Regions from separate parts of the Homo sapiens genome. Here all the other regions are reported to be linked to region 3. Evidence: microRNA targets listed by miRTarBase, many of them from high-throughput screens and not tested one by one. Region 3 holds a microRNA gene; each other region holds the end of a gene's coding sequence.
The links. Region 3 holds the annotated microRNA hsa-miR-4513 (AGACUGACGGCUGGAGGCCCAU, at 3,296-3,317, shown strand). A microRNA usually pairs through its seed, bases 2 to 8, with sites in the 3' UTR of a target mRNA and lowers its output. Matches are read on the target gene's strand: a 7mer-m8 pairs with bases 2 to 8, a 7mer-A1 pairs with bases 2 to 7 and ends in A, and an 8mer does both.

Region 1 (10,570 bases), not on the chromosome of region 3:
TATTATTGTTATTATTATTATTATCCTGGCATGATGGCTCATGCCTGTAGTCTCAGCTGCTCGGGAGGCTGAGTCAGGAGGATCCCTTGAGCCTGGGAGTTCAAGGCTGCAGTGAGCTATGATCACATCACTGCACTCCAGTCTGGGCTACAGAATGAGACCCTGTCTAAAGAAAATAAAATAAAAATCTCAGGAGCAAGTGAGAGTGGAGAGAGCAGAGGCCCAGGATAGAGCCCTGAGGAGCCCTTGCATGGGGCAGGAGAGGCAGGATGGGCCACTGACCCATGACAGGCCCAGAGGTCAGGGTTAGAATCTAGGCCTCCCTCCAGGCGGCCAGCAGGTGGAAGGGACTTAGGGCCTGTAGGTCAGGGGGCTGGGCTTCCTTGCCTCTTCCTCAGGCATGAGTCATGGGGACCTATGGGACCTTGGCCATTCCCAGTGGGGTGGGTGTGTGTGAGCGTGTATAGTGTGCATATGTGGCCCAGGGCATGGGGCCAGTATCAGCGCCTGAGGGACAGTCTGTGCGAGGCTGCTTAGCCCAGAAGGGGGCTGCGTGGCAGGGGGCGGGCTTCCCCTCCCTGGACACTTTATCACACTCTGCCTGTTTGGGCAGGGGCTGGACCAGGCACTTGGCACATCTTGCATCCTTTGATCCTCACTTTCATTCTCTGAGCTGGTTGTTTATGTCCATTTTATACATAAGGGAACTGAGGCCGGGCGCAGTGGCTCACGCCTTGGGAGGCCGAGGCAGGTGGATCACATGAGGGCAGGAGTTCAAGACCAGCCTGGCCAACATGGGAAAACCCCATCTCTACTAAAAACATAAAAGTTAGCCGGGTGTGGTGGCAGGCACCTGTAGTCCCAGCTACTCGGGAGGCTGAGGCACGAGAATTGTGGAGTTTGCTGTGAGCCAAAATCGAGCCACTGCACTCCAGCCTGGGTGACAGAGAGAGTCTGTCTCAAAAAACAAAAACAAAAAAAAAAAACAAAAAAAAACGAAAAAAAAACCAAGAGGCTCAGTTAGTGAGGTATAGAGGTTTAGAGGTCTCAGGGCAGGTTGATGATGAAGCTGAAAATCTGACCCAGGCAGGCTTGGCTGGAGAAGAACTTTTTTTGCTTCCGGGTAGGCTGTGAGCTCCTAGGCCCGGCTGCCCTGTGCCCAGCATGATCTCTTCTCTCGGTGGGATTCTAAGGCAGCAGCAGGTCCCCAGGCATAGGCACAGCCTCGTCCTTTAGTGGAGCTTCCAGGTCTTTCCATGGGGAGGCTTCACTGCCCAGTGCCTGGGGCCAGATGGAAGGGCTCAGGGGGGCTGGCACAGGTGCACATCAGCGGCTGCCCTTGGGACAAGGCTAGGTTCTTTATACTTGCAAACCACTCAGTTGCCCCATCTGTACAATGGGTGCAACCGGCCCAGTCCACACAATACCCTGCGAGTCGCAGTTCCTGCAGAATTGGTTGGAACCGGCAGGCCGCCTCCCCTCTCCCCCTTCCCCCACCACCCCTACTCCGACACCCACATCAACACCCTGTGCGCCTGTCCCCAGGACTTCAGTCTGCTGTACGAGGAGGCGCGCTACTATCAGCTCCAGCCCATGGTGCGCGAGCTGGAGCGCTGGCAGCAGGAGCAGGAGCAGCGGCGCCGCAGCCGGGCCTGTGACTGCCTGGTGGTGCGCGTCACGCCCGACTTGGGCGAGCGGATCGCACTCAGCGGCGAGAAGGCCCTCATCGAGGAGGTCTTCCCCGAGACCGGAGACGTCATGTGCAACTCCGTCAACGCCGGCTGGAACCAGGACCCCACGCACGTCATCCGCTTCCCGCTCAATGGCTACTGCCGGCTCAACTCGGTACAGGTGAGGGCTGCACGCTGCCCCCTCCCCGCCGCACCCCCGGCGTCCGCGGAGCCCTCCAGGGGCAGAGTGAGCTGGAGGGAGGCGCGATCCCTGAAACGGTGAAGCCCCCCGTGCCATCCTACAAAAAAGGCAACAATGTGTCGATGCATAATTTATGTCCCTCTCATAATTAAATGATGGCGCCTGGGGGATGGACTTAAAAAAATCGATCTGTACTTTTTTTTTTTTTTTCCAAAAGGATGTTCTATAAAAATGGCCCAGAGTATTTTCAACAAAGCGTGCTTCATTTGACACCCAGAGTCTGACTTTGGATTCGAACTAAACCCAGGCAACAGGCGAGGCAGGACAGAGGCTGAGTGGAAAGGTGGTCTGGAGCCCCTTCCCTCTCCCTGCTGACCTGGGAGTCGCAGGCACCCACCAGCTGCCAAGAGAATCCCTGGACCGGCTCTTCCTGGATGGGTCCAAGAATTGGACAGCTCAGATGGAGTGAGGGCCTATTTTCCAACAGCTCTTCGCAGACCCAAGAGCTTGGCACATTTCCGGGTTAGGGTGGAATGGGCTTTGCAGGGAAGAGGGCCCCCTGTGCACGCATTCCACAGCCTGTCGGTCAGAACTTGCTAGTTGCAGGAGACGGGTGTTACACGCAGTCATCAGACCTCACCCTCACAGAGGCACAAACCCACATAGTTGTGGACGCCTGCAGAGACTCAAATATTGAGAGGACTTCTCCTTTTTCTCTCCCTCCAGAGCTCCCACGAGCTGATGCACCCCCAGGCTTCAAACCACCTGGAATGCACAGCTCAGGGAAGCTGGTGGATGCCTAGAGGCTGAAGGACAGGGAACTCTCCATTATTGGGGCAGGACTCAGGGAGGACACTTGGGGCCATGTGTCTGGAGAGAGGGCATAGGTTACACCCTACAGAATAAAGAAGGGACCCAAAGCCTCTTTTTGCCTCCCGGAATCAAGGCCCTGAGGGCAGCAGGATGGTGGCCTGGGTGGGGTCGTCCAACTAGGTTTGCTAACCTGAGGGGTCACTGGGCCTGGCCACTTCTGTCCCTCTGGTGGTGGAACCCAGCACGTGGTTCTGTAGGGACCTTTGTCAGTGAGCAAGACTGAGATCGTCACAGGAGAAGGTGCCCTTGCTGGCTGCCCCAGCAGGCACCCACCTCCCTGCCAGGCCAAGCCAGGTGTCCTCTTGCAGCTTGGCCTTGATGACCTCTGTTTCTTCCTGGGCAGGTCCTGGAGCGGCTGTTCCAGAGGGGTTTCAGCGTGGCTGCGTCCTGTGGGGGCGGTGTGGACTCCTCCCAGTTCAGCGAGTATGTGCTTTGCCGGGAGGAGCGGCGGCCGCAGCCCACCCCCACTGCTGTTCGAATCAAGCAGGAACCCCTGGACTAGGCCCTGCTTCAGTGCCCACCTGGGCCCCCCCAGGGACCTGGAAACAGTGCTGGGGAGTTCTGCCTGTGTATACTTGGCCGTGGGCATGAGACCGAGGGTGAGGCTGGAGGGTCCAAAGCTGGCCCAGCGAGCACCAGGGTCCCAGGTGTCATGGCAACAGAACGTGGGATGCTGGAGGCATGCCTGCAGAAGGACTGTTGATGCGACCCAAAGATACAGCGGTGGGATCTCTGCTGCCAGCTCTCCCAGCCCCTCAGCTTCGCAGCCTGGCGCAGCATCCTCTGAGGCCCCGGGGCCTGTTGGGGCGGGGTTGGAAGAGCCGTCTGCAGCTACTTCAGAGGAGCTGTTTATCCCTCTCCACGCGGGGCAGACTCTGGCGGGTCTCCTAGCGTCCGAGAGATGGCTTATTTTCTACAGTATTTAAAATGGATGCAGCCCTAACTGCAAAAGTCAGAGAGGCTGACAAGGACCAATGCTTCTTTATCTGGTGCTCAGTTCTCAGTCAGACGTGCAGCATGGCTGCAGGGTGGACCAGCTGCCTGGCATTCAGGCCCAGATGCCTGCAGGGCTGGGGCTCTCGGGACAGATGCAGGGATGTGTGCTGCAGGGCTGCTGGGAGGAGAGTGGTGGGGGCCTGAGGGCTGAGTGATTCTGTAACCACCTGAGACCTTCACGTTTGCTGCCGTTGGGGGCTCAGGCTGCACTCCCCGGGTCACCTGACCTGCTGCCCAGGGGCTTCCAGTCCTGTCTGTGTGGACTGGCACCTGGGCTGCTGGAGAAGTCTCCTCCCGTTCGGACCAGCCTCAGGGCTGCACGTTACCTCAGGAATGGGCCCCACCATGAAGGGGCCCATCTGTCAGCAGCGTCTTCTAGGTCCCCAGCTCAGGGAGCCATCCCCAGCTCCAGTTTTCTCATGCGAATATGCACAGTTTTAATTCACGTTGTTACACTAGCCTGCCGATGAGACCCAGACACAGGCAGACCTGGCGCTCTTGACCCCTGATTCCAGTGAGGACTGGCCCTGAGGAGTCCTTGCAGACCTGCTGCCTCCCCCACGACAGGCCCAAAGATGGACCCCCCCTGGCCTTGTGACAGCTCCCCAAGTGTTCTCCGGTGGAGAAACTGCAGAGGACTGGTGGGCGGGGCTCCCCAGCCATCACCATCCTGTGTACAATGGCTGTAGACTTGTATATGGCTCCTTTAATATTGTAAAGATGCTGATGTACAATTGTCGTGCATTTGTGTGAACACATTGCGTTCCCAGTCCATGCCATAAATGATGCTCTCAAGCAAAAGACTGGAGGCTCTGTCCTGTGCAGAAGCAGCAGCCAGACTCCCGCATTCGATGTTGTGCAGGGAGGTTTGGGGGCGGAACGGATTCCTCCCTTGGATCCTTCAGTTCCCATCGAGGAATAACCCGCAGCAGTGGTGGAGGAAGGTCAGTGGCTGGGTCCTGAGCTTGGTGTTATTTATTGCATTTGGGTGCCTGTCCCCTCAGGGCAGCACAGATTCTGAATTCTGATTCACAGTCCCTAGCCAGATGGGAACTGGGAAAGAGACAGAAGGCGTCTGGGTGCTTTTGAACCCTGTCTCAAATGTTTGGGATTTTCTCTCTCACTATTCTTTGGTTGGGGATGATGTCCTCTTTAGACCCCCACGTAATGGTATGAGAAGGTGGCAGGCAGTGGCTCAGCCAGCCAGGGGGCACCAAGTCATGCAGCCAGCGTGAGACCTGCAGTTCACCTAAGCACAGAACGAGATCTCAGTATGCCTCCATGTAAACAGATTCACATAGGCCTCCAATTTCAATGAGACCTTTTGCATTTTTTCTCAAAGCCCTTATGTTCTAACCCATGAGAACCATTTTACCTGCCCTCTAAGGGCCACCAGCTTCGACCTGCCTCAGGGGACAGCAGCACAGACCAGTGGCTCCCTGTCCAAGGCCGCAGAGCAGACGCCATCCCACTGTACAATCGAATTTGCTGGACAAACTTGATAGGTTTCTCTGCTTAGCAACGAGCCTATAGTTAGTTGGCACATCTGCGTTTTGGCATCTGAGGCTCCCATCTGAGTGGAGGAGAAAGTGTTGTGTTTATTAGCAGGAAGTCTTGTGAAAACAGCTCGCTGCTGTGTATGTTTATGGATTTTTCTGATATAACAGCCAGCATGGTTACCGAGTGGTAGAGATTCTCGAACATTCTCAAACTCTCTTTTTGGGTAAATGATTGTGCTAAAAATAAAATTTATTAATAAAGAAGGGGAAAAAGGAGTAACTCTACCTGACTAAATGTTACTCTAATTTATTTATTTCTTTACTAATTAAGTAAAACCAGGAAGTATGATTTTACATCAACCAGAGAATTTCTGAATTTATAGGGAAACACTATGTCCCCATAATGATGCTATAATTCTAATATATCTAGTCCCCATAAACAGTAAGTACAAATTATCATTCCTTTAAAGCATTTTTACACTTCCTGGAATGAGTATATTATCAGCAATCTTTTGTCAAATGCCAGCCGTATAAATGTTACTTCTGCTCTTTGTAAACCTCAAAACTCATTATTCTTGATTATAAGCAACTGGACAGAACCATGCCAAAGCTTCCCCGTTTCCCACCAAACCCCTGCCAGTGAGTGCAGAGAACTCGCAAAGCCACAGCAGGCGGTCTCAGCCACCGTCCCGCTCACAGGGGCCCAATGCCAGGTCACAACACTAAGAATATCTTTCAAAAAATGTGTCTTTTTTTTTTTTTTTTTTAAAGCTACTGCTTGACTGTTCCTTAGAATAAATAAAGGATATTTTATAAATTACAGCTCTAGCCCTTGGTTTGTAATTCACGGAAGCAGCCACAATCAGGTACTCCAGCATTGGTCCTCGGGAACCACCACTCCCCACACTTGGGACCTGGTGTGGCTACTGAGTAGGACCTTAACATCCCAAGTCCCAAATCCCAAAGCTTCCTGATTTGAGGACTGACCAGAGAGCAGCAGCGTTGTCTCTAGGCGCTCAGTGCACATGCTGTTGGCAGATCTGGCGGGGAAAATGGTGCAGGCATGGCCTCCCTTTACCTCTCCAGACCCCCAAGCCTGGACTCAAGTGTTCAGGCTGTGATGAGCATGTTGCACTACGTTGGTGTTGCATACATGTATATCTGTGGACCAAACCACTAACATTCAAAAGAAGGAAAGTGGGCGGGTCACAGTGACTCATGCCTGTAATCCCAACACTTTGGGAGGCTGAGGCGGGTGGATTGCTCCAGCACAGGAGTTCAAAACGAGCCTGGGCAATTTGGTGAGACCCCATCTCTACAAAAGAATTTAAAAATAAGCCACTCATGGTGGCATGTGCCTATAGTCCCAGCTACTCAGGAGGCTGAGGTGGGAGGATCACTTGAGTTCAGGAGGTTGAGGCTGCAGTGAGCCATGTTCACACCACTGCACTCCAGCCTAGACAACAGAGCAAGCCCCGTCTCAAAATAAATAAAATTAAAAAGAGAAAGCATGGCTGGGTGTGGTGGCTCACACCTGTAATGCCAGCACTTTGGGGCCAAGGTGGGTGGATCCCCTGAGGTCATGAGTTCAAGACCAGCCTGGCCAACATGGCAAAACCCCGTCTCTACTAAAAATACAAAAAAAAAAGGATTAGCTGGGTGTGCTGGCATGTGCCTGTAGTCCCAGCTACTCGGGAGGCTGGGGCACGAGAATCGCTTGAACCCGGGAGGCAGAAGTCGCAGTGAGCCGAGATCGCACCACTGCACTCTAGCCTGGCGACAGAGCGAGGCTCCATCTTAAAATAAAAAAATAATTAATTAAAAAAAAAGGGAAGCACAGATGTGAGAAATGGGGAAACTATATCCATTGAGCCACTGACCAAGATAATATTTAACTTGACTAAGCCTAGCAGAGCCTGCCCACTTCCCCTCCCTAGAGGCCAACCCATGTTCTCGAGGCAATGCTGTCTGCCAAGATGGCCCCATCCCATCAAGCCCTGCCTTCCCTCCTGATTCTCCAGAGACAGGAAAATGGCTGCATTGGCCCTGGAAGATACTCAATTTCTCCTAAGTAGATGACAAGGTGGAAAATACAAAAATGGGAAACTGCCAGGGGATATTCAGTTGGAGGCAGGAAATCTGCCTCAGTTCAAAACAATAGGGAGGTCTAGACAGAGCTAGAGGGACAACTGATGGCCAGAGAAGGCAGCCGCTGGCCTGGATGGAGTCTGACATCTGGGCTGATGTAGCTGTTGTAGGAAGTAGGATGTCACAGGTTGATGGCCATCTCAAGGGGGGTAGGCAATGTGTTTAGCCACAAGGCTCAAGTCAGCCAAGTAATATTGGTCTTGTCACATGTGTGATGAGAATGTGGGTGGCTCTCTTTGCTCACCCCAACCCCGCCCAAAGGAGGAGTTTCCTTGTAGAGAGAGGGCTTGCCCTCACCTGGAGATCAGGGGCTGGCAGCTGTCTTATCTCTGATGGAAGATTTGATGTGGAGTTACCTGCACTGAAGAGTCTGGGTCACTGTATAGGGTAAAAGCCCACATCGTTAACTGCCACAAATTTTAAAATTTTCTACAAATGGATTTGCTTAGAATGAATGGTAAGAAAAGGGTCAGGTGCAGTGGCACACACCTGTAATCCCAGCACTTTGGGAGGCCAAGGTGGGTGGATCATTTTAGGTCAGGAGTTCGAGACCAGCCTGGCCAACATGGTGAAACCCTGTCTCTACTAAAAATACAAAAATTAGCCAGGCATGGCGGTGCGTGCCTGTAGTTCCAGCTACTCGGGAGCCTGAGGCAGGAGAATCGCTTGAACCTGGGAGGCAGAGGTTGCAGTGAGCCGAAGTCTCACCACTGCACTCCAGCCTGGGTGACAGAGTGAGACTCCTTCTCAAAAACAGGAAAAAAAAATGGTAAGAATAGAAAGATGATATTAATGCATATGTGTCAAAAGCAGCTCCTGCCTTTATTAGTGAGAAGTTTCTCATTAGATCAAATGAAGTTTCTTGTCAGTATCCAGAGAAACCTACAAAGGCATCACAAAGATAAAGCTCTAACGTCCAACATAAAGCCCGAGACAAAAGATGGTCTAGAGCACCTGCTTGGAGGAAGGTCTATCCAGGAACAACTGTATTTAGGTTAAACTGCTAAATTCACCAACTAGGGCAGAGAGGCACAGAAACATTCCCTCCAGAACCCCTTTCCATTAAGAGTTCACTCCTGTCACCACATTCTAGGCAGCCCCGATGTTCTCTGGAGGACCGGTGAGGTAAGGTAATGCTTTGTGGACTAACAGAAAGAAAAAAGTGTTGGTGACAGCTAAGGGCAGCTTCCTGCCAGCACCAAGACTAGCGCTGATGTTCTCTTAGAAGCACCAGAGTTTTCTAAGGTGACCCAAATGGAACACAACCCCAGGGAAGGTTGAAAGTCAGAAAAGAAGAGCGCGTCTCTGCTCTTTCTGGATCTCACAACCAGCGAGTTCTCGCAGCCATGGCCTCTGTAAGCCCAGGGACATTTCTCTGTGAGCTTTCATTGGAAGGGAAACCCCAGCCCCAGAGAAGCCTACCCCGCCACATCCCAGGCTAATCCCTGGATCTGGTTCAGGAGCTCTCTTCCTGCAAGCCCCAAAGCTAGACAAGCAGAGCCCTGCCAGGCCCATGGTGACCTCTGCAGACCTAGGAACTGCAGGCAGAGTTGGGGGCTCGTTCCTGGGGAGGGGCCCACCCCTGAGGTTGTGCATCCAGGAGGGGCCCACCCCTGAGGTTGTGCATCCAGGCATGACTGACTGTTGGTAGCTGTTTACCCTCAGGGAAAGAGAACTTTCTGTGTTTTTATCTCCACCCCCAGTGGAAGGATATGTTGAGTAGAGTTTTTGCTTTTTGAGGAAAAGTCATGATTTGGAAAGGGGCGCTGATGTATCTGTTGAGGCTTTGGATGTTGATTTTTAAAGGGTCCCTGCTTCCCTGCAAAGATCCTTATCTTCACAACCACCCAAGAGCACCACTTATTGGTGGCCAGCATATGCCAAGCACTGCAGGTGCTTGGGAGGGCAAGATAGCTCATGAGGCTTGGAGCAGACATTTGTTTATGCACAGGAATTGTTCACTTTTTTTCTTCTCCTTTTTTTTTTTTTTTGTGAGACAGGGTCTCACTCCGTTGCCCAGGCTGGAGTGCAGTGGTGCAGTCTTGGCTTACTGCAACCTCTGCCTCCTGGGTTCAAGCGATTCTTGTGCCTCAGTCTCCCGAGTAGCTGGGATTACAGGTGTGCACCACCACGCCCAGCTAATTACTGTATTTTTAGTAGAGGCGGGGTTTTGCTTTGTTGGCCAGGCTGGTCTTGAACTCCTGGCCTCAAGTGATCCTCCCACCTTGGCCTCCCAAAATGCTGGGATTACAGGTGTGAGCCATTGCGCCCAGCCAGGAATTGTTTACTTTCAATTGTGTACTTGAAGCTCTGTAAATTTAACAGGAAGAGAGACCACATTGCAGTTTTCCACTTCGTCATGACACTGAACATGGATTACCCCAAATGCATTGATTTGCATGTAGAGAGAACCACCTCTCAGGCCTCAAGACTAGCGTCTCCATAGCAAAGGAAGCTTCTGTGAAATTCTAATGAGAGACCCAGAGAAAGAGGCAGGCACACTCCCGGGGACACACAAAGGAGAGGGGTTAGGGGTCAGCTGCATTTGGGGTTTTGTCTTTATTTCCATTACACAGAACAGCCAGTCCCGACAGCGCCCAGGCCCCACAGGACAATGCTGTTCCTGGACCCGGAGCCATGGCCGTGGAATAAGAGCTAGGTCTTCAGGGCCTCCTCCTAGGATCCTTCTTAACACAGAAATCACAAACCAGGCCAAAGTCTTAAAAAGCAGAGCCTGGGAGGGGCAGGGACGCCCAAGCCACGCTGGGGCCCGGGAGGCCTCCCGTCCTGCCCGCGGGAGAACCCAGGCCGCGCATCCCTGGCTGGACGGCGTCACCAGCCGTAGCTGGGCCAGGCCTGCTGCTCAAAGCCCGTGTCTAGGATGTCACCAGAGCTCCCTTTTCTGTGTCCTGGACCCGGTTCAGGGCCCCCGAGGAAGCTGCGGTTTGGGGCGAGCCGATTGCACCAGCAGGGCCGGGCTGCTGCTCCCGGGGCTGACGCGGGCCACGCCCTCCTGGACGCGGACACACCCCCATTTCCCCGGGCCCACAGAGCCACGCCTGGCCCTGCAGCCAAACAGCGGGAAGGCAGATTGGTACGAGTAGGTACAAGGCCCTGGAATTCTCGCCCGGTTGCCACACACTGCACGGAGCATAATTGGGGGAGGTTGTGCAACTGCCCGG
Region 2 (8,071 bases), not on the chromosome of region 3:
AGCTGAAACTGGATCCCTTCCTTACACCTTATACAAAAATCAATTCAAGATGGATTAAAGACTTAAACTTTAGACCTAAAACCATAAAAACCCTAGAAGAAAACCTAGGCATTACCATTCAGGACATAGGCATGGGCAAGGACTTCATGTCTAAAACACCAAAAGCAATGGCAACAAAAGCCAAAATGGACAAATGGGATCTAATTAAACTAAAGAGCTTCAGCACAGCAAAAGAAACTACCATCAGAGTGAACAGGCAACCTACAAAATGGGAGAAAATTTTCACAACCTACCCATCTGACAAAGGGCTAATATCCAGAATCTACAATGAACTCAAACAAATTTACAAGAAAAAAACAAACAACCCCATCAAAAAGTGGGCGAAGGACATGAACAGACACTTCTCAAAGAAGACATTTATGCAGCCAAAAGACACATGAAAAAATGCTCACCATCACTGGCCATCAGAGAAATGCAAATCAAAACCACAATGAGATACCATCTCATACCAGTTAGAATGGCAATCATTAAAAAGTCAGGAAACAACAGGTGCTGGAGAGGATGTGGAGAAATAGGAACACTTTTACACTGTTGGGGGGACTGTAAACTAGTTCAACCATTGTGGAAGTCAGTGTGGCGATTCCTCAGGGATCTAGAACTAGAAATACCATTTGACCCAGCCATCCCATTACTGGGTATATACCCAAAGGACTATAAATCATGCTGCTATAAAGACACATGCACACGTATGTTTATTGCGGCACTATTCACAATAGCAAAGACTTGGAACCAACCCAAATGTCCAACAATGATAGACTGGATTAAGAAAATGTGGCACATATACACCATGGAATACTATGCAGCCATAAAAAATGATGAGTTCATGTCCTTTGTAGGGACATGGATGAAATTGGAAATCATCATTCTCAGTAAACTATCGCAAGGACAAAAAACCAAACACCGCATATTCTCACTTATAGGTGGGAATTGAACAATGAGAACACATGGACACAGGAAGGGGAACATCACACTCTGGGGACTGTTGTGGGGTGGGGGGAGGGGGGAGGGATAGCATTAGGAGATATACCTAATGCTAGATGACGAGTTAGCGGGTGCAGCGCACCAGCATGGCACATGTATACATATGTAACTAACCTGCACATTGTGCACATGTACCCTAAAACTTAAAAGTATAATAATAATAAAAAATATATAGAGAGAGAAATGAAAAAAAAAAAAAAAAGAGTTCTGTACACAGGCGGATGGCTCCTCATCTAGGCTGGTAATTTCACAGGGGCTGTGACGCAAACCTATTTACCCAAACCTTCCATTATATTCAGCAGTGCCCTGAAATGATCAATTTTGAAAGTGAACTAATGAGATACTCAAACTTATTTTATTACTCTAAAGTACAGAATACAAACAACAGAAATCATTAGATATTGAACAGCATTTTTATGTAAATAAAATTAAAATATCTCAGTCGTCTGTACAGACAACTTCATTTGTAACAGAGACTTGTTTTATCTTTAGTGTATTCTACTCTATTTATCTGATACGACTATTTTGCTTTTAAATGTTTTCCTTAAAATTTTTATAACTAATACTTCACTAATTACTTTACCAAATACATAGATTAAAATATCCCTAAATGTCAATTTTAGCAGGACTACCTTTTTCCTTTCAAAATGTAGTCAAATATACCTTTAACAGTATTCATATGCACAAAATTTAAGCCAAATATTCAAGCTTACAGGCAAAGATCTTGAGCACACTTACTGCTGTGCCAAAGGAATAATCTTGGCCCCATCCCTACTTATAAAAAATATATAATAAATCATGATCTTTGATTAAAGCAAATGACTCTTAACAGAATGTGAGCTATTGCCAAAAAAATGATTCTAACAGTTATGGTTTTACACTCACAGCCTAGGTTTCTAGTAGTATGTTGTCAAAAAAAGCAAATGAGGTGATGATTGGCAGTTAATGGTCATTGACAAGATTTTAAGGGTAGTTAAAAAAGTTTCTCTGAAGTATCAATATCAAATGTGCTAAAAGGAGAAAAGTAGATGCAGCACTGATGTGTCAAAAATGACTTTGAAAATGTAAATTCCTGTGTCTGTAATAGGTATCCTTTAATAGCTGAAAGTAACAAATGAAAAGCCAAACATTCACTATTAACATACATGGGGCCTGACACAGTGGCTTATGCCCGTAATCCCAGCACTACAGGAGGCCAAGGTGGGAAAATTATTTGAGCCCAGGAGTTCAAGACCAACATAGGCAACATGGAAAGACTGTGTCTCTATAAAAAATAAAAAAATTAGCCAGGTGTGGTGGTGTCTGTAGTCCCAGGTACTCGGGAGGCCGAGGTGGGAGGATCGCTTGAGCCTGGGAGACTGAGGCTGCAGTAAGCTGAGATCATGCCACTGCACTCCAGCCTGGGGCAATAGAGTGAGACCCTGTCTCAAATATGTAACACACACATACATACATAAATATATACACACATACATGGTAGCCAAATGGAAATTTTACTGACTCTTTGATTAGTATCATTACACTTCACATATGAGTTTTAGTCTTCAGTTAATTCCTGGGAAATGCCAAAAATAAAAATACTGCCACAGAGAAATTAGTTTTTCTCTGCTACATATTGGCTCAAAAGTAAGCACCTGAATATTAATTGTCTACATTTTGTATTTTTAAGATCTTATTTCAAAACAATTTACATTGAGAGTATTATTTATGCTCTTAAACAGGATCAGGGATATCTTTATTTCTAGACTCTGGGAAGATAATTTACCTGAGCAAAATGCAAAGATAAATAATTATACAAAAATTTAAGTCAGTTGTCAAAGCTAACAATGCATCACCTGGCTTCAAAATTTAACAAACAAAGAGTCTACATAAATATCTTTCTTGTCTACACATCTTTCTTGTTATGGTAAACATTTTGTTTTTTCTAACAAAACACTGCTCTTCATTTTAAAATCTAAATGGCAAAATGAGAATGATAACAGCGAATTAACAGGTTTGAATGTGGTTTATAAAATTAGGAATGGGCAAACATGGATTAACTGACTCGAAAATACTCTGGAATAGGGGTCACAAATTTGGTCCACAAGCCAAATCCAGCCAGCTCATAAGAACAGTTTCACATTTTCTAATGGCTGAAAAAATCTAATGGCTAACACAGTAGTATTTTGTAACACATCAAAATTATGTAAAATTCAACTTTCAGTGCTCATGAAATTTTATTGGAACATGGCCACACTCATTCGTTTAGGTACTGTCTATGATTGCTTTCACATTAGAATGGCAGAGTTGAACAAATGCAAAGGAGACTTATGTGGTGCTGTCATCATTTTGCACTGCTACTTGGCACACTAAAAACTGCAGTAATGCAGTTACCAGCATTTTGAGTGCCACATATGTTGTCATACCACAATATTTTTAAATTTTTTATTACTAGTGCTTACCCATAACATCAAAACAAGAGAAAAAAAGAAAAGTAGACTTGAAGTGACATTTTTAAGGCACATTAGTATATGAATTTTTAAAAATCAGATTAGATGTCAGAGTATGATGTTTAATATGCAATGTCATTATAGCTGTTCTTAAAGAATACTATAGGGAGGTCAGATGCAGTGGTTCATGCCTGTAATCCAAGCATTTTGGGAGGCTGAAGTGGGTGGATCACTTGAGGTCAGGAGTTCAAGACCAGCCTGGACAACATGGTAAAACCCCATTTCTACTAAAAACATAAAAATTAGTTAGGTGTGGTGGCATGTGCCTGTAATCTCAGCTACTTGGGAGGCTGAGGCAGGAGACTCGCTTGAACCTGCAGGGTGGAGGTTGCAGTGAACTGAGATTGTGCCACTGCACTCCAGCCTGGGCAAAAGAATGAGACTCAGTCTCAAAAAAAAAAAAAAACAAACTCAAAAATGAAAATAAAGTTGCAGCCAAAGTGACTCAGATGTTAACCAAGCAAGGAAAACATTTTACTAACGATAACTAAATTGTGTTTGATTCTATCGGCTGAAGGACTGTGTCCAAAGTAAACTTAAGACTATTAAATTAGCCTTTTGGCAAGAATGGTTGCTTAAAGAATTGAGAACACTGGGAACAACATCAACAGTCAATAAAAAACAAGGCAAATGACCCTGAGTGGTTTTCCTTGGCTCTTGATGAGTCAACAGATGTTACTGACACTGCCTAGTTATTGCTTATTTGATAAGTCAATGCCAACGTTGAAGTGACTGAAATTAGTCTCTATGAATTATCTGTGTGGCACAATTACAAGCATGAATATTTTATAAGAAGAAAACACAAATTTCATGCAACCTGAAGTAGAATCTGCTAAGATGTGTTACAACTGGTGGTGTTAAAAATGTGTGAAGCAAAATGATTACGTTTGTCAAATTTATAAAGCCTGTGAAAAGGTAAGAAGGTATTTAAAATCTATGGTTATTTACTGTATTATTCATCAGCAGGTACTTTGTGGGATATATTTGATTCAATTTTGTATTACTGAACTACTGGTAGCAATGGTGAACTTCATTTGCTCTCATAGTTTCTGATAGATTAAACATCAATGGTTCAGTTATCTTTTGTCAGATACAGAAGATGAATATGCTGATTTGCCCAACCACATTGGCATAATAGTGTTAGTTCTATTGTGAGCTTTTGCGTTCAGGGCTGATATTGACATTTTTCTGAAAAAGAAGACATGTCCTCAATCACTATTATGGAACACTGAATGGCTTTGGAATTTAGCTTTTGCTCAAGACTTAATAAAATTTTGAAATGAATTCAAGCCAAAATTACAAGGCAAAACGTGTTTACAAGCAAAACATAAGTCATTTTGATGACAACATTGTTTGAATTACAAGTAACAACAAGCTGCTTTACACATTTCCTGTGCTATCAAAAGGTAAGACAAAGAAGCGAGATCTCCACTCTCACACAAATTTGTAGCTCACACCATAGTGCCTGCAGTATTTTTTGGAGTTTGCAAATGTAAAGGAAATTTCCATTTTTCAAAATCAATTTAACAGTGCAATTGAGGAGCTTCTGCCTAGTCTTCAATTGGAAGTGATTAAGCTGCAATGTAATAACATGCTAAAAGGAAAATATCCAGAGAAGAAGTAACCTTTCAAGTGATGAATATGCTCAACAAAAATCATATTCTCATGGATTAATGTAAGTATTTGACAATACCTATCTGCAAGGAATTTTCAGAAGTAAAATACATAAAATCTTATTACAGATCAGCATTAACAAATGAGTACTTACAATCAACTTTAATGACACGAAACATTAACTTTGATCCTCCCTGTAAATATTTAATTCTTTTCATTAGTAAACCCGTATTACAAAAAAAATTGTTCTAAATTATTGTTTTGAATTTTGTCAATAAAATTTTCGTGCAAATTTTATTTCTCTCTAGTTATTTAAGTATCTACATAACAATCTCAGTTTTACCTCTTAGCCCACAAAGCCTAAAATATTTACTATCTGGCCCTTTATAGAAAAAGTTTCCTGACCTCTGCCCTAGAGCCAGAAGCTACCCTGAACACCTAAAAGCACAGGTTTAATGCAATGCTTCAGAAGCCAGATGGCCTGGGTTTATATGTTGGCTCTGCCACTAGCAGCTGTATGATCATAAATAAATTCTTCAATCTTTCTTTGCCTCAGTTTCCTCATCTGTAAATGGGGGTAAGTAATGGCATTTATCTTACAGGGTTGTTGTGAGAATTGAATTAGTCAATGCAAAGCACAAGAAACAGTGCCAGGCACAAAGGAAGCATTCTCCTCATGTGACTACTGAACACTTGACATACATCGTTTTGTTAAAAAAATGAATTAATTCTGCTACTCAGAAAGTAGACAGAAAATATTTTGTGGCATGAAAAGGCACAGCTGTTTTGAACACAAAACTAATATTAACTGTAGTATAACAAAATTCATTGTCCTGTTAAGTGCAAAATCGTTATATTCCAGCATCCACACACCCTAGCAAGATATATATCTCTCTCTATATAATATATATAATTATATATATGTATATAATATATACATGTACATTACATATAATATAAATGTAATATATAATTATATAATATATAATATATACATGTATATATTAAAAATCATAAATGTGGATATATATTATCTATAATATGTATATATAATGTGTATATATAATATATATCTCCACATTTATGTTTTTTTATATAATTCAGAAACCTCAAAACTTTACCTTTCACAAAATGTTAAGGCATCTGCTTCTAACAGTTGGAAAGCTTTTTTTATTTAGTAGTTTACCTCTTATTCTTGATTATACCCAAATTTTTATATTGGCATTATCCAGTAGTGAAATAGACAAAAATATCAGAAGAAAAGTGGAAACACTACAATTTTTTTTAAGAGAAAGGGACTTGCTATATTGCCCAGGTTGGAGTGCAGTGGCTGCTCACAGGTGCAATCATAAGTACACTAGAGTCTCAAAATCCCATCTCAAGTAATCCTCCTGCCTCCACCTCCTGTGTCGCTAGGACTACAAGTGTGTGCCACCACACCTGGCTAGAAAAACTAAAAATTTTCCAGTTGAACAGTTAATCCAGAGAAATAACCAAACAGCTGGAAAAGCATGTCTCATTCTCCAACTAGCTCTGACCATTTTGTACATACCAAACAAAACACTTGCCAGGTCACAGGCTTAATAAGACATCCTTACATGAAGGTGTAAAAAATTAACTTTTTTTTTTGCATAAATGCCACGATACTTTATTGCTCAGTGTTCCTTTGAAAATAAGTTAGCATGATTCCATGTTATTCTTTTATCAATCATATTATTGACTAAAGCATATCACTGATTAACATAAGGTAAAAATAATATCCACTCATATTCTTGAAGAGAAGTGCTTGCAGTATTTTATGAAAACATTTGTGCACATTTTTACTTGATTTAATGGACAATTTCATATTTTTCTTTAAAATCTACAAATGTCTTAATTCTTACCATTAAAACAACTAAAAACAAAACCCAAAACCAATCCCAAAATTAAACCCCAACAAAGCACATTAATTTTAATACAGAACATATATTAAGTCACTGAGTAAAGCTCTTTTTTATGAACACTTTTGGAAAGCTTGCATTCAGTTCTAGCACAGCTCTGTTATCAATCTGCGAACAGAAGGACACATCAAGTAAAGAAAGATCTTTACAAGATTCCAGGAGTTTTCTTAAGGATGCCGGACTTACCATTCTTGTTCCTATTTAAGGGAAACAAAACAAAACAAAACAAAACACCTTAAGTATAACATTTATATAATGTGCTAACAATGAATCCATCCATGATTTATTGTTTGTAATGAACTTAAAATAACCCTTTACAAATTAAAATCATTTTTTCAAACATGACTTCATATTGAAATGGTTCTGTTAAAAAAGTAAAAGTTGAATTTTCCAGCCAATTTAGCATCTAGGACCTGAATCTTGCCAATATCCTACCCACTATCTTCATTCCTACCTCCTACCCCTTCAAATCAGCTCCTCCAGACTTTCCTATTTCTGTCACCCCAGTTCAAAATGGTTTTCACCATGCATTTGATGTAAAATGTGCAAGTGCGATATGACTTCACAAAGTATCAATTGTGTGGACAATGATAACTACTGTGACACTGCTAGCACCCCTGGCTAAAAGTAAGAAGCAACAAAATTACACAGGGTTCCTTTCTGATGAATGCAGCAAGGATTCAAGAAATCCCAGAGCTGGAAAAGATTTTCAATAGATCTGCCTGGGGTAGAACTATTCCTAAACGCTAGAATTATCAGGGATAAAGATTTCACGATATTCCTTAATCAAGAATTTTAATTAAGAAACTTAAAAAAAACTAGCTTGAATTCATTATACAAATGAATTAATTTCTTCTCTCCTTAATAAAAATAGAGAGCGCAGCTCATGTAAATTCTCACTCTTACAAGTAGACCAAGAATTAATGGTTATAGTTTTTTACAGTTTCAACTATAAAATTGTTATTGTCCTCACTATTTTATTAAAGT
Region 3 (6,520 bases):
GAAAATGGCAAAACACCAGCTCAAGTCATTGAAGAAAAAGTTGCCAGGGGAGCAGAACAGACACAGCTTCCAAGTCCCATCCCACAGGCTAATTGGAAACAGGAAGGAGCACCTGCACTACAGGGAGACGTGCGGACAACCCCGGAACCAAGTGATCCAGTGAAGCATCACCAGCAAGGTGACGCATGGACACTAAGTGCCTCCTGGAGGAGGACTCTGCATTGCCCGGGGGGGCGTTCCTGCCAGAGCTGTTCCACCTGACTCCAACCAGGGAGAAGCAATCAGACAAATCCAGAACAACTGGCCCGGACTCTTCATGTCAATGTCATAAAAGAGCAAAACAAAAAAAGGGCTGGAGAATGTTCTAGATTGAACAGGACACTAGAGAAACATGACAAGATTCAATAAATGATCTTGAATTGAATTCTATATCAAGGGGTGGTCGGGGGGACAGCTATAAAAATCACTTGGGGAGAGGGGAAATGGACATAGTAGATAATATGGAATTAATGTCAATTTTCTTAAGTGTGATCATGACATTGTGATTATATAAGAGATACACGCTAAAGTTCTTAGGGTGAAAGATGCAATGCCTACAACTAACACTCAAATCAGCAAAAAATACATACACACATATGTCTATGTAGATAAAAGAAGAGATAGAGTAAATGTGGCAAAATGTTAAGAACTGGCAAATCTGCATGAAGGATATATGAATATTCATTATACTATTACTTCAACTTTTTGGTAGGTTTCAAATACTCAAAATAAAAGGCTGTGAAAAAAAAAGCCAGGTGCAGGTTCTCTATGGAATACTACAAGTTGTGTTTTTAAAGAGGTATTAATGCAACACCTCCCTAAACTCAAATATGCCTCGATTATCTTTGGAAAGACAGAGGAAACTGGTAACAGAGGTTGCCTCTAGGATGAGAAGGGAAAGTGAGATCAAGTTCAAGAGAAACTTACTTTTTACTGTTCATTTGCTATTTTGTCCTTTTGGGCTTTTAAAAAAATTATTATTATTTTTTTAAAGCCACATGCATCTATTACCTTCCCCCTTAAAACTGGAAATAAGAAACTTTTTGTAAATCACCTCTCTCTGGAGAATTCCTTGGGTCCCCAGCTGTGTTGGCTGCCGAGGCCTCCAAGGCCTCTCACACATCCCCGTGCTCCAGTGAGAACCTCACTGGTTGTGGCCTGTGGTTTAGGGTGGACTGGGAGCTCTGCAGGGGGAAAGTGAGGGTCTGACTCACGTCTGCATGGGCTGGGCCCAAAGCGGCTGCTCAGTAAATGAGTGCTGAATGAATGAATGAATGAACGAATGAAAAAAAGGGGACGCCAGGCTGGCTGTACCACACCGAGGTCTCATAACCAATAGGACTATAGTTAACCCCAAAGGGACAGCAGCTGTCACCCCATTCCCGCAGGGCTAGGGGACAAGGGGCTTGGGATGTGGCAGGACCAGTGCTTCACTCTGACTTCCTGCCCTAAACCCGGCTCCCAGCAGCCCTTGTGCTGGGGTCCCGGGAACAGGCTGGCATTGTGCCCAAGCGCTGAGGTCAGTGGCTGCAGCCTCAGGCAGCCTTTCTTGTGAGCCCAGGCTGACAAGGAGTGGGGAGAAAGAACTGGGAGCCCAGAAACTCCCAGGCTGCCCTTTTCCTACCCTGGAAGCAGCTGTAGACCCCCAAGGCCAGGCACGTGCTGAGGGCCAGGGGAGGTCAAGGGGCTCCCTTGCCCTTCCCCCTTGCCAAAACTCTGCTGCCTAATGGGGCGTGGGAGCCTTCAGTAACTGTTTACGCCCAGCTAAAAATACCCACTGAAAAGGGAAGTGCACAAAAGACCTGGGGGAACTCAGGGCCCTGGCCCCCGGAGATTCTGGTGCTGCCACAGGACCTAGCTGGATGCTCTGGGGGATGGGGACAGCCACTGGAGGCAAAACAGGCAACAGCAAGGTCCACCTTGCCTTCTCATTCTTTGAGCCAGTGTTTTAGAAGCCTTCCTGTGTGCCCAGAGCCATGCTTGGTAGGCCAGGATATCCGGGTGGAGAAGGAAAGGACTCAAGAGGTCCTGCCTTTGGGGACCCAAGGTCACCACTCACACACCTCTCCTCTGTGCACAAGCCAGGGCTGGATGCTGGGAACCACCACAAAATGCAGACCCGGCTCCTGTCCTCCTGGTTACTGGATGGTCAGCCATGGCCTGGTATGTTCAGTGCCTCAATAGATTGTGAGACAGGGGCCACCCGGGAAGGCTTCCAGGAAGATGGGTGAGGGGAGCAGGAGCTAGAAGGATTTTAGGGGAAAGTGACTGAGAGAGGGGCGCCTTGAAGTAAACCAGGATTAAGACTGCAAACTGTGGTACAGAGCGAGTTAATGAAGACTGAAGAAGGTTCAGGATGGGGGCCCAGGGAACCTCCGAGCAGGGCCTACAGGTCATAGTACAGATACAGGCAGAATTAAGTTTCAGATTTGGGCCCGCCCCTCCAAAGGGCAGTGCACCTGAGGAGGGCGGGGCACCCACCAGCAGTTGGGCAAGTTTGGCAGCAATAAAATCAGCTCCACCTCTGGTTCTGCAGAGGACACCAGGCTGAGGCACTGTGACATTCCCCACCACACATCAGGCAAGGAAGGGTGCCCGAGGGCTTCCACTGACCCCCGCAGCCTGCGCTGGTGGTCCCTCAGCACCCCCACTGCACAGGTGTCTCAGGGTGAGCAGCAGCAGAATTGGGCGCCAGGGTCTTGGAGATGCCTACACCTCCCGGGGCGGTTACGAAGGAACAGAAGAATGCCTGCTCTGGCTCCAGGGCACGCTGCCCTACCCCCATCCCGGGGCTCCCGTCAGCACCCTGACCTAAGGAGAAGGGCGGATTTAATGGATAAATACCAAATTATAGCAACACACTGGCTTTTTTTCCCCTGCCCCCAATGGTTCAGTGGGACCGGAAATCCCGTCTAGTGGTTTGGGAGAGGTGGGGGCTGGGGTTAGAGCAGGCTAATGGGGAGCCTACTCCCCAGGCACCGCTGCGGCTTGAGGCTGCCATTCCTGGCCCAGAAAGGTTTCTAATTACCGCTCAGGAGCCTAATTACCTATGTGCGCTGGGCAATGGGGACTCTGGGCCTCCCCAGGGCCCTAACCCAGGCCTCTGCTCCCCCACCCCCTTAGCACAGGATGTGGTCTTTGCATCTTCATTTGCCTGCATTTGCATATAGCCTCTCAGCACTAGCCTTCAATGGACCCTTCAAAGTCATGTTCTTGTCCCTCACCCGGAAGTCTCCTGGCCACATTCTAGGTGGGGAGACTGACGGCTGGAGGCCCATAAGCTGTCTAAAACTTCGGCCCCCAGATTTCTGGTCTCCCCACTTCAGAACCAGGATCTGCAGAACACACAGCTCAGAAGGTAAAGCTGTGGGGATCAACACAAAGGACAGACTTGCTACTACTTAAGGGAGATGGGGGTGTTACCAGTACACTCCTCCAGCAGGATGGGCTGCAGAATGAGAACACGGGAATTACAGCTGACTGACCCAACCGGGTTTGGGGCACTGCATTAGTTACTTAATCCTTCAAACACCCCATAGGGCAAGGACTGGTGATCTCTGACAGAGGAGGAACTAGCTGTGTGGGTACTTGAGCTCAGAGTTGTCTGAACCTTGGTTAGGGGACCTTTCTTCCCACCTTTCCTTGTGCAGGACAGACGACACCCTGAAAATGGACAGGTGGGGGGCACCGAGGGGAGGTCTGCCCAGAGCTTGGCTGTTCTGCTCTGGGAAGCAGAGGTACTTCTGTGCCCACTTCTTGCTTGTCTGCATACCCCAGCCTCTCAGAGAGGCCAAGAGCCTGTCGAGGGACACACAGAAAAGAGCCAGCAGCCCTAGAGAGGGCAGAAGCTTCAAACAAGGACCTCTCCTCCTACCACGCTTCTTCTTCAAACACTTCTCAACTTTCACAGGACCTTCCCCTCCAGGAGGCCCTCCAGGCTGCCCCAGCCCACGCAGAGCCCCAGCTTCAGAGCTCCTACCAGCTCTGCCAGGAAGTGAGAACCACAGGCCTCCCCTCACTGACTCCTCGTCTCCTCTACCCGCCAGCAGAGGCGCTCTCAGGGTTTGCTCTTCATCCTTCCCTCCTGTCTCCCTGCAGCACGGACAGCACAAGCTGCAGATAGATAGATGCGCGAGTCTGCATGAGGACCAGGTGTCAGGCTGGGCTGAGAAGCAGCAGCCAGGGTCCAAGGGGGGCAGATGATGCCCAGGTTTTCGCCTGCCCACGAGGCTTACAACCATGCCATGATCAGGACAGCCAGGGGGGCACCAAGCAGCCTCTCTTCTACTTGTTCCTTCGACTCTGGGCCCAGACCACAGAAGGAGGGGTGGAGGGAAGCTGCGGTTGGAGGGTGTGTGCACAGCTAGTGTGTGATGAGAAGCTGACTTCATCTTAGCACCTCAAAACCAGGAAGAGAAACTGAGCAGGCAGAAAGGGCAGGCTGGGCTGCACAGGGCCCTCCAGTCCCTGGGGGCCTGCTGAGGGGAGCTCTCAAATAGTCGCTTGACAAACCACTTCTCCTTTCTGGGCCTCAGTTTCCCCATGGGAAAAATGGGATTTTTTTTCTAATGGGTCCTGCCAGTCTGCCCTGAGTGGTGCCGTCTACACTTAATGGGCCACATCATGGCAGATAAAAGAGCACCCCCCCAACTGGTGGAGTACTTCTGATCCCGAGGAGCAGGGGCTCAGCCACCCAAAGCCAGCCTCTCCCTGCTCACTTCTCCCCTCAGCCATGCAGGGAGCACCAGCTCTTCCTTCACCAGCTCTTTATTTTTAGGTCTGAATTTGACTTTAATCATTACTTAGCGGATTCTATTTCCAGCCCTTGGATGAAGGGACCCAGAGGAGAGGGGGAAGGGAGGCAGTGCTCCCTGCCGGGCGTTGGGGGTGGCCTGCTCCTCCACCCATCCTGTCCCCAACCAAGGGCGGGGGAAACTGAGAAACACCCAAAGGGCTCTCATCTGAGCCAGGCCAGGCCAGCATCTTGGGGCGGACCCCACCCTGTGACCTCATCCCATCCCAAGCTGTGGGACAGGAGGGCAGTTGTCATGCCCACTTCCCTTACACTAAGACCAGGGAGGAGGAGATACTCCACAGGCCAAAGTTTGGCAGCTGGAGTCTGAAGTCGTGTGCCCAAGGGACCTCTGCACTGAATGGGCCACCTGGGGGAGGACCCCTTCCTTAGGTTAGTCCTGGGCCACCCTAGGGTCATCTGGGGCTACAGTCTCTTAGGCCCAGGGTTGCCAGGAGGAGACTGGTGTCCTGCTACTGCCCACGGGGTGGCTGTAGGAGGGCACTCCCAGTTACCCTGGTCTCCACAAAAGTAGAACAAGAGGAAGCAGGTGTGTCACAGTGATACACACTCAGGTTAGACCTGGGGAACACCTGCTGAGGAGGGGGAGGCTAACATGAGTTTCCCGATGTGTCCAACTCCCTCCTGGGAAGCTCTGGGAGGCTCCAGAATCCCCCTACCCTTAATCTCCCAGCTTCTTTCCCTTCCTTGGCTACTGGAACAGGGTGCGAAGATGAGGCTGGCATGGCTGTTCTTGGGCTGGGGCTCAGGATGCCTGGGTTCCTTGTCTAAGTCTCAGGCTAAGCAGGCCTCTATTTCCTCTGGGAAAATGCCAAGCTGGGCTGACCTAGCCAGAGCTGGGAGGCAGGAGGCAGCCAGGCTCTTACAGAAGAGGCGCAGTGGCTCACGCCTATAATCCCAGCACTTCAGGAGGCCGAGGTGGGTGGATCACCTGAGGTCAGGAGTTTGAGACCAGCCTGACCAACACGGAGAAACCCCATCGCTACTAAAAATACAAAATTAGCCAGGCGTGATGGCACATGCCTCTAATCCCAACTTGGAAGGCTGAGGCAGGAGAATCGCTTAAACCGGGAGCCGGAGGTTGTGGTGAGCCAAGATCGCGCCATTGCACTCCAGACTGGGCAACAAGAGCAAAACTCCATCTCACACACACACACACACACACACACACACAAAAAAAAAAAAGAGAGAGAGAGAGAGAGAAGAGGCCTTGTCTATTTAGCTCTGATGCTGGGAGACCGGAAGGGGAATGGGTGGAGTCAGGTCCCGGACCCTAACCAGCAGCCCATCTTCCCAGGGCCAGCCCCATGTCCTAGGCCAGCCAATCATATGGTAATGGGGAGAAGGGAAGGCAGGCAAGGGCACTGGCCATAGTATTCTAGAACCTCAGGGCCAGGGGGTTTCACAGGGGCTCCTCAGGCGGAGACCACCTCTTTGCCAGGTGAGTGGTCAGTCAACATTGGCCCGTGGCTCAGGCACCTTCCCCACAGGTTGAGGCAGCCAGCAGTGGGCACTCCTTCAACAATGCCAATCCTACTCACAGAGGGAGTGAAGAAAGGGCTGTGCCAGGCACTTTAGAGTCCCTTGGTTAGTTAGTTGACACTGTCCTTACACCTTCCTCTGAAGTAGGTGTTACCATCCTGTTATTTATATCAACGAGGCTCAGCA

Region 1: miRTarBase lists KCTD15 as a target of hsa-miR-4513. Seed matches in the 3' UTR shown: 7mer-A1 at 3,746-3,752.
Region 2: miRTarBase lists FBXL4 as a target of hsa-miR-4513. Seed matches in the 3' UTR shown: 7mer-A1 at 4,260-4,266.

Annotation. Positions count from the first base shown.
Region 1 is chr19:33,809,702-33,820,271 of GRCh38, forward strand. KCTD15 (potassium channel tetramerization domain containing 15) reads left to right here. Exons shown (of 7, transcript NM_001129994.2): 6 at 1,546-1,851; 7 at 3,089-6,060. The coding sequence ends at 3,247. Among named protein-coding and RNA genes, the nearest start is that of KCTD15, 18 kb to the left of the region's middle. RefSeq lists an enhancer at 10,555-10,570.
Region 2 is chr6:98,867,161-98,875,231 of GRCh38, forward strand. It overlaps FBXL4 (F-box and leucine rich repeat protein 4), which reads right to left. Exons shown (of 10, transcript NM_001278716.2): 10 at 1,375-7,281. The coding sequence ends at 7,118. Among named protein-coding and RNA genes, the nearest start is that of POU3F2, 37 kb to the left of the region's middle.
Region 3 is chr15:74,785,520-74,792,039 of GRCh38, reverse strand. MIR4513 (microRNA 4513) reads left to right here and starts at 3,283; the gene lies at 3,283-3,368. The region is part of intron 1 of CSK (C-terminal Src kinase); the gene reads right to left. RefSeq lists enhancers at 1,663-1,762, 1,933-2,002, 2,023-2,072, 2,583-2,662, 2,693-3,002 and 5 more and a silencer at 4,063-4,240.